Linked DNA regions of Homo sapiens. The protein of the gene in region 1 interacts with the protein of each later gene in a pairwise test. Each region holds a gene or a part of one and is shown on either strand. Other genes may lie near its edges.

Region 1 (3,817 bases):
TTTTAACTACCATCTATATTCAAAGACTACCAAATCCTTTCTTCTAAAATGTAGCTTCTCTTCAAGGCTTTGGATCCCCATATTAAATTTGATTTGACAAATACTTATTATTGAGTGCTAGATGATACTCCCAGTGAATGATGGTTTAGTTGATGAGGCAGACATTTAACCAGAATTACTATACCATGTGATAAGTGCAACAACAGAAGGATTTATGGTGTACAAAGGAATGACAAAAAGATACAAAGATAATGAAGAAAGCTATAAAAAATAAATGAGAAAAATGAGAAAGAATGATTTCTGGGAAGGGGATTGTTGAGCATTCCAAGCTAGAGATCAGTTTATGCAAAGTCCTGGAAACATGAAAGACAAAGAACTAAGAACAAGAAAACTTATTTAGTATGATGGGAGGCAAAGTACAAGGTGGAAGGCAACGGCAAAATAGCTAGACAGACATCCAGGACTGGCTTATGAAGTACACAGTCTTGTGTGCTATGTTAAACTATTTGAAATCTATCTGCCGGGTAACAGTATATCACTAGAGGTTTAAATCAAGCGATGGAGCCTCACTTTACAAATCAGTCTGGTATTAGGGAGGAAGACATGGAAGGGTCCAAAATGGGATTTGGGGAAACTATTTAAGAAAATAAGCCAGGCAGATGGTGAAGTAGGCAGATGATGCAGTTCTGAAGCAGGGACAGAGGAATGCAGAGAAGGGTGTATAATCAGGGGTGTCCAATCTTTTGGCTTCCCTGGGCCACACTGGAACAATTGTTTTGGGCCACACAGAAAATACACTAACAATACGTGATGAGCTTTAAAAAAAAAAGAAAAGAAAAGAAAATCGCAAACAAATATCATAATGTTCTAAGAAAGTTTACAAATTTGCGTTGGGCTGCATTCAAGGCTGTCCTGGGCTGCGCGCAGCCCGTGGGTTGGACAAGCTTGGTGTATACTTTCGAAAAATTTAAATCACAAAATCAATAGAAATTTGGGACTGATGAAATGTAAGGATGAAGAAAACTTTTGGGTTTTGGGCTAACGTTACTAGGCAGATCATGGTTTGGACAAATGAGGGCTCAGCAGCAAGAGGAGAAAGGGTAAGGGAAGGTACTAAAGTTACCACAAAATCCTCCTGAGATCATGTGTGAAAGGCAGAGAACATTTCTGCCAAGGAGAATGCACTCAACAGTGAATCCTCACCATTCTGTAACCTACCGAGCTCTTTCATCTTTCTAATCTTTATGGTTTTGCGTACTCTCTTCTCTCTCCTGTACCCACTTCTGATTCTGTCTAGTGAATCCTTCAAGTTCAAGCTTTTGTAATAGCATTTCCTTAAAGTCTTCCAAGATGAGCAGGCCTACTCATTTACTCCATCACACTCCTGAAGAACCCGGTGATGCCCTGAGCACATGACACTGTACTATAGTTACTGGTTTAGTTGTATGCCCTTCTGGTAGTTAAGGAACCACATGGCAGGAACCTTGCCTTCAATCTTGTATTTCCATCTTCTGCCAGAGTGGGTCCTGAATAAGTATCTGTTAAGTCGATTTACAAGCGAATAAACTCTAATGCTCAGCCCTTAGCCTTATGCCTCTGCAGTTTTCCCTCAAATTCTTATCCTGTATAGACTCTCTCACCATGAAAGATGATTCTCATACCTCTATTTTAATTCTTCTTGTCTGTCATCATCCTGTATTTCCAACTGTCCATGGAATATTTCCATTTTATTGGTCCAATACTATCTTACACTGATTTACTTAGAAATAAATCTTCTCCCCCAATTAGCAGCCTTTACTGACCTGTTTCTGTTCATGGCATACTCCCTTATCCAAACAGTAACTAAGTCTTATTTATCCTTCCTTTGTTGTTATCTACTGTGTTTCATTTTTCCCTCTGTTCTATTACCACCCAAGTTCAAACTCTCATAAATGACAAGCTCAATTTTGCAAAAGCTTCTTTAAAAGTCTCTGTCCCAGTCCCCTCCCTAACCAATTGTTTTGTCCTTCTGTTCAGAAACCATCACTGGCTTCCTACTACCCTATTCCTACAGAAAAAAAACCCACACTCACTCTTTTAACGAGGTATTTTTAATTCCAGCAAATTTTCTCGGGACAGATACTCCAGCTTTATCACTTAATGCTCCCTACATGAATCCTCAGCTCTAGCCCAGAATGTCTAATAAATTAAGCTTGAATGACACTTGCACTTGCTTATTTTCAGACGCTACTTTATGCTGCCCTTGACAGAAATGGTCTCACTCTTCCTTGATACTTCATTTAATCCTGAATGAGACCTTTAAGTCACACATGACACCACTCCTTCTCTACGAAAATTTCCTTAACCTCCCAGTCAGAATGATCTCTCCTTCCTCGGGGTTCTTACTGTCTGTGTACCAATACTGTGGTATGGATAGTATTTTTTCATGTGTATGTATCTTTCTCCCCACAACTGGGACATAAGATACCAGATTACCACGCCTACGTGGTGTCTTGTTCATATAAGATAAACAATAAGCACTTGTTCGGATAACTAGAATTTGTGAACACAAATCCAGGCCTATCATAAGTGATTATCCAAGAATTCTATAGAACTTACCCAAATAATATGAAGAAATGAAAGGCCAAATGACCTGTACTAACTCTTTCTCAAAAATATGCAAGCCAAGCATGTGAAGGCTGCAACATTTCCACAGACTCAAAAACATGGCTCCCAAGTCCAGCCTCAATGATATCTACTGGAGCCCAAACTGAGTTTTCATTTCAGGTGGGTGACCACCTCAACTTACCTGTGTAACAGACTGATGTATGTCAGGAAAGTCTCTCCATTTTCATATAAGATGTACAGTGGGTATGCCACTACTTCATCTTTGCCGTTTTGTCCAAATAGAGTCTTTGGGACTGCTGCCAATGGCCCAAAGTCAAATGCAACTGCTGTCTCTCCTAGAGATGCGGTATACGCCCTTCTGGAAAGAGATGTAAAAACCAACTTGTTAAAAACAAAAACAACAAAAAGTAAAAAGAAAAACAAAACAAAACAAAAACACAAAATGTCTAATAACAGGAGGTGGGTATGTATGGAATTTGTAGGCAATGGACTGAAAAGACAAAAAATGATTATGAAGAATGTTAACATTTAAAAATTCTCAGCTGGGTGCAGTGGCTCATGCCTGTAATCCCAGCAATTTGGGAGGCCGAGGTGGGTGGATCACCTGAGGTCAGGAGTTCGAGACCAGCCTGGCCAACATGGTGAAACCCCGTTTCTACTAAAAATACAAAAATTAGTTGGGCGTGGTGGCAGGTGCCTGTAGTCCCAGCTACTTGGGAGGCTAAGGCAGGAGAATTGCTTGAACCTGGGAGGCGGAGGTTGCAGTGAGCCGAGATTGTGCCATTGCACTCCAGCCTGGGCGACAAGAGCGAAACTCCGTCTCAAAAAAAAAAAAAAAAAAAAAATTCTCATGAAATTAAGTGAAAAAAGCTGGCCATAAAATTATTTGGTTCTACTCTCATCTTAAATAGTTTAAATACACAGATATACAAATAGCAAAAATTTATTATATACACACACATAAATGCAAAAAGGAAACAGGAAAACACATGAAAACATCAACAGTTGTCTCTGAGCAGCAGGATCCGTAAGTTCTACAAATACTCGCAAAGCACCTACTCTGTGCCAGGTACTTTTCTAGGGTCTGGGAATATGTCAGTGAATTAAACAAATGTCCTGCCCTCTAGAGAGAGAAATACCACAAAAAGAGAAGAAATAAAGATGGAACATAAACTCAGAAAATATCATGAAAAATAAAGTAGGGTAAGAG
Region 2 (3,817 bases), on another chromosome or scaffold:
AAAGGTGGGAGCCTGTGCCAGCCAGCAGTAAGTTTGGGGGTCGGGGGCGGGATGGTTAGAAGAAGTGCCTGCTGATCCCTCCCTCCCATCCCAGCCCAGGGAGGATAGGGGTGAGAGGTCAGCCATGTGCTATCTCTGGCAGTGGGTGAGCAGTCAGGGCACAAGTTTCCCACAGTAGGGGGACTGGGGCAGGATTTTGGCTTCCCTGGGCTCCTCTGAAGTTTCCGCTATGTGGGGGCGGCCCCCTCTGTCTTGAGGCCTCACGCTTTAGAGCCACAGCCTGGAAGCTCCCACCGGCCATCCCCTTCCACCCTGGGGACCCAAACCTGTTCCCCTAAGGACCAGACAGTCCTCCCTCAACCCATGGCTGAGCAGCCCCAAGTTCTGAGTGTTGTTTCAGATTCGGAGCATCTGGGGCCAGCTGGCACCCCTGATTCTGGCTTGACCTTGGCCTTGGCCTTCTGCTCCAAACCGTTATACCCACTTCCTCTGCCCCATGGGAAGCTCACAGGGGGCGGTTATGACTTAATCAAGAACATCAAACGGCCAGGAGCTGGCTCTGTGAGAGGTGGGAAGGGAGGGAAGAGCCTGGACTGTTTGGCCTGGGCCCCTCTGTGGGACAGGACCCGTTTAATCTCAGCAGGAACTGCCCTACCCACCCGCTTCCCCTCCACTAAGCCGGGGTCTGAGGAGCTGGGAGGGGAAGCCCAGAGGTAAACATGGAGTGAGTGGTGTGGGATGTGTTGCTCCCCTCGCCCCTGATGCTGCCCTAAGAAGAGGCAGACAACCACAGACCCGGGGCCTCTGCAACAGGCCCAGCTGGTGTCTCTCGGAGGCTGGCTGGTTCCTGACTCACCCCCGGGCTTCCCCTTCCACTGTGGTTTTCCTGTCAGCAGCTGATTCACTGTGCTGACATGGACAGGCAGCTGATGGAGGAAAGAGACCTGTGTTCTGGTCCTTGGAGTTGGCTGCTGCTCTGCTGTGTGTATGTTGTGTGACCTTAGATAAGTTCCTTCTCTCTGGGATTCCTTCCCTGACTTGCTGATGCCCCATTCTTTCCTTGGCTCTCGGGGAGTTCTGGGACCTGGGATCTATCCTTTGCAAAGTAGGGCATGTCTGTGAACACCCACCCATACTCAGGCATGCGCACACACACAAATACAACCCCAACACAGAGGAGCTGGGCAGCTCCCCTCAAAGAGCACTTGATCCTACCTCCCTATTTTTACCTTGTTTCCCCCACCTGAAGCACCTTTATCTTCTTTCTGCCTGTTAACAGATTAGGGAGATGATGGTACAGCATGGCGGTAAAGCACTGGACTTTAGAGTTGAGATCTCGGCCCTGCCAATTTCTGGCTACGTGACTCTTTCTGAGCCTCAGTTTTTGAACCTGCAAATGGGGATAATAATGGTCATGACTTCATAGGTCATGAGGAGAAGACAAAAAAGTGCACATGAAATGCTTAGTATTGTTATACCTAGCACATAGTAAATGCTCAATAAAGGAGAGCCATTGTTGTTTGCTGTATCTGGTTGGTCTTTCAAGGCTGGTGCCAGGCTCCTTCTCAGGCCCCCAGGGACACTCCCAGAACACCTTCCTTCTGCACAGGGCCTCTGTGCCTCTCCAATATGTGTGTGCCCCAAGACGCCAGTCATGTCTGGCTATGTGGGGCTCTCTGGCTCTTCCTGGGGGTGGCTGGGTCTCCTCACTGTGACGCTCAGCTTCCTGAGGGGCAGTAGGTCTGAACATCTCTGGCTGCCTTTCCCAAGCCCCTCATTGCCCTTCACCTTCTCCTCTGTGCTTGGCTGCCTTTCCCAAGCCCCTCATTGCCCTTCACCTTCTCCTCTGTGCTTGTCTACACTGTGTACCCTCCTCTTTGATCCTGCCACTTTGTGGTGTATGATGTGTTTCCATGAGCTCTCCTGGGCAGGCACTGCCCTGTCCTGTCTGTATCTCTGATTCCTGGCATACAGCAGGCACTTGGGGATCGATGACTGAATGAATAGGTTAGTGGTTCTCTTGGGTGAGGCCGGGGGTATCAGCAGTACCTAGCTTGGTACCACATACCAGGTGACTCCTTGGCAAAGTGGAGCCGGGAAGCAGGACCTGGATGCCACTGCCTGGTGCTTCAGGCCTGTGGGCCGCACTTCTGCAACCTGGATCCAGGGAGATGGGAATGCACCGTCTGTCCTGGAATTGCTTTCAGCAGAGCTTCTGCTTCTCTTCCGATGCCTGGCCTTTATTACCCTCCTGAGAGGGGAACAGCATGACTTCCTTCAGTCCTAACCCAGGAAGGGGCCACTCTGGCCTTTAGTGAACTCTGACTCAGCCAGAAAGAGCATCTTGGAGTCAACAATTGTTTGTGGAAGGTGCTGCTATCCTGTGGGGACTCAAGCTGGGGCCTGGAGAAATGGGACGGTGGCCTCCAGGAAGCCCATCCTGGACATCATCCATGCAGACCCCCAGGTGGGCAGCTCTGGGAAGCCCCACTCTCCCCTCTGACCTCCTACCCTGCAGCAGAAGCTTTTGCCTCTTCTCCGCCGCCCCACCCCGCAACTTGACTTTCCCTGCTGTGTGGAAGGGTGATCTGGTGTGGGAGTTGTTCAGAGTTCTGGGCCTTGGCTCTCAGTGTCAATGTGGAGAAGTGAACAATGCCCTGGTAGTTGGGCATTAGGAAGCCCGGGTTCAAATCCTGGCTCTGCCATGGAGCTACAGCATGACCTTGGCCAGAGAGGTGACTTCTAGGCAGGTTTTCTTCCTTTTAGGCAGCAAGTGTTCCAGAAGCCTTCCTGAGTCCCAGCTGGGCTTGGGCCTGGGGGAGTGGGGAAGAAAGCCTGGGCAAGATCACAGACTCTGGAATCAAATTGCCTAAGGATGATTCCCGCCTCTGCTACTTACCAGCTAGGCGTGACTTTGTGTCTTACCGCTCTGTGCATCAGTTTCAGCATCTATAAAATGGAGACAATAATAGTACTCATCTCATAGGGTTGTTTGAGAATGATATATGAGCTAATGCATATGAAGCATTTAAGACAGCGCCTGGCACATAGTTAGTGCTATATATGTTCCTGCTGCTTTTGGTAGTGTTTTATTTTTATTTTTATTTTTTTTTGAGACAGAGTCTCACTGTATTGCTGAGGCTGGAGTGCAGTGGTGCAATCTTGGCTCACTGCAACCTCCACCTCCCGGGTTCAAGTGATTCTCGTGTCTCAGCCTCCTGAGTAGCTGGAATTTCAGGCATGCACCACCACACCAGGCTAATTTTTGTATTTTTAGTAGAGATAGGATTTCACCATATTGATCAGGCTGCTCTCAAACTCCTGGCCTCAAGTGATCCTCCAGCCTTGGCCTCCCAAAGGGATTACAGGCATGATCTACTGTGCTCGGTGTTTTTGGTAGTGCTGTTAATAGGAAGCAGGATGTAAGTCTTTGAAGAGCTTGAGTCTGGAGATCAGGGGACCTGGGCTCCGTTCCCAGCTCATCTTTTACTTGCTGTGTTATCTTGGGTAAGTTATAGCCCTTCTTGGGCTACAAAACTATATTATCTTGCATTTGCTGCACTTGGCTTTTGTAAGTGAGGCACATGTGATGCCACAGTGGACGGCTGCAGGGTTTTATTCAGGGGAAGGACTCCTGGGGGCCTGGCTTATTCTCCTGCAGCCTAGGAAGGAAGGAAGGCTGTAGTGTGGGCAGGTCCCAGCTGCTGCCCTAAAGCATTGCAGAGACTGAATGGCAGAGCTGCTCCCCTACAACTCTACTCTATCAGGCCAAAATACAGGCAACTACATGTAACGTACCCGTTACGAAATACAATTA

Evidence for each region.
Region 2: the proteins of NUP88 (region 1) and CD82 interact in a two-hybrid assay, tested with the Homo sapiens proteins (one large-scale study listed by IntAct).

What each region holds. Positions count from the first base shown.
Region 1 is NC_000017.11:5,405,945-5,409,761, forward strand, and holds part of NUP88 (nuclear pore complex protein Nup88), read right to left. Parts: intron 2,966-3,817; coding exon 2,789-2,965; intron 1-2,788. UniProt on the Homo sapiens protein: Component of nuclear pore complex.
Region 2 is NC_000011.10:44,568,480-44,572,296, forward strand, and holds part of CD82 (CD82 antigen), read left to right. Parts: intron 1-3,817. UniProt on the Homo sapiens protein: Structural component of specialized membrane microdomains known as tetraspanin-enriched microdomains (TERMs), which act as platforms for receptor clustering and signaling.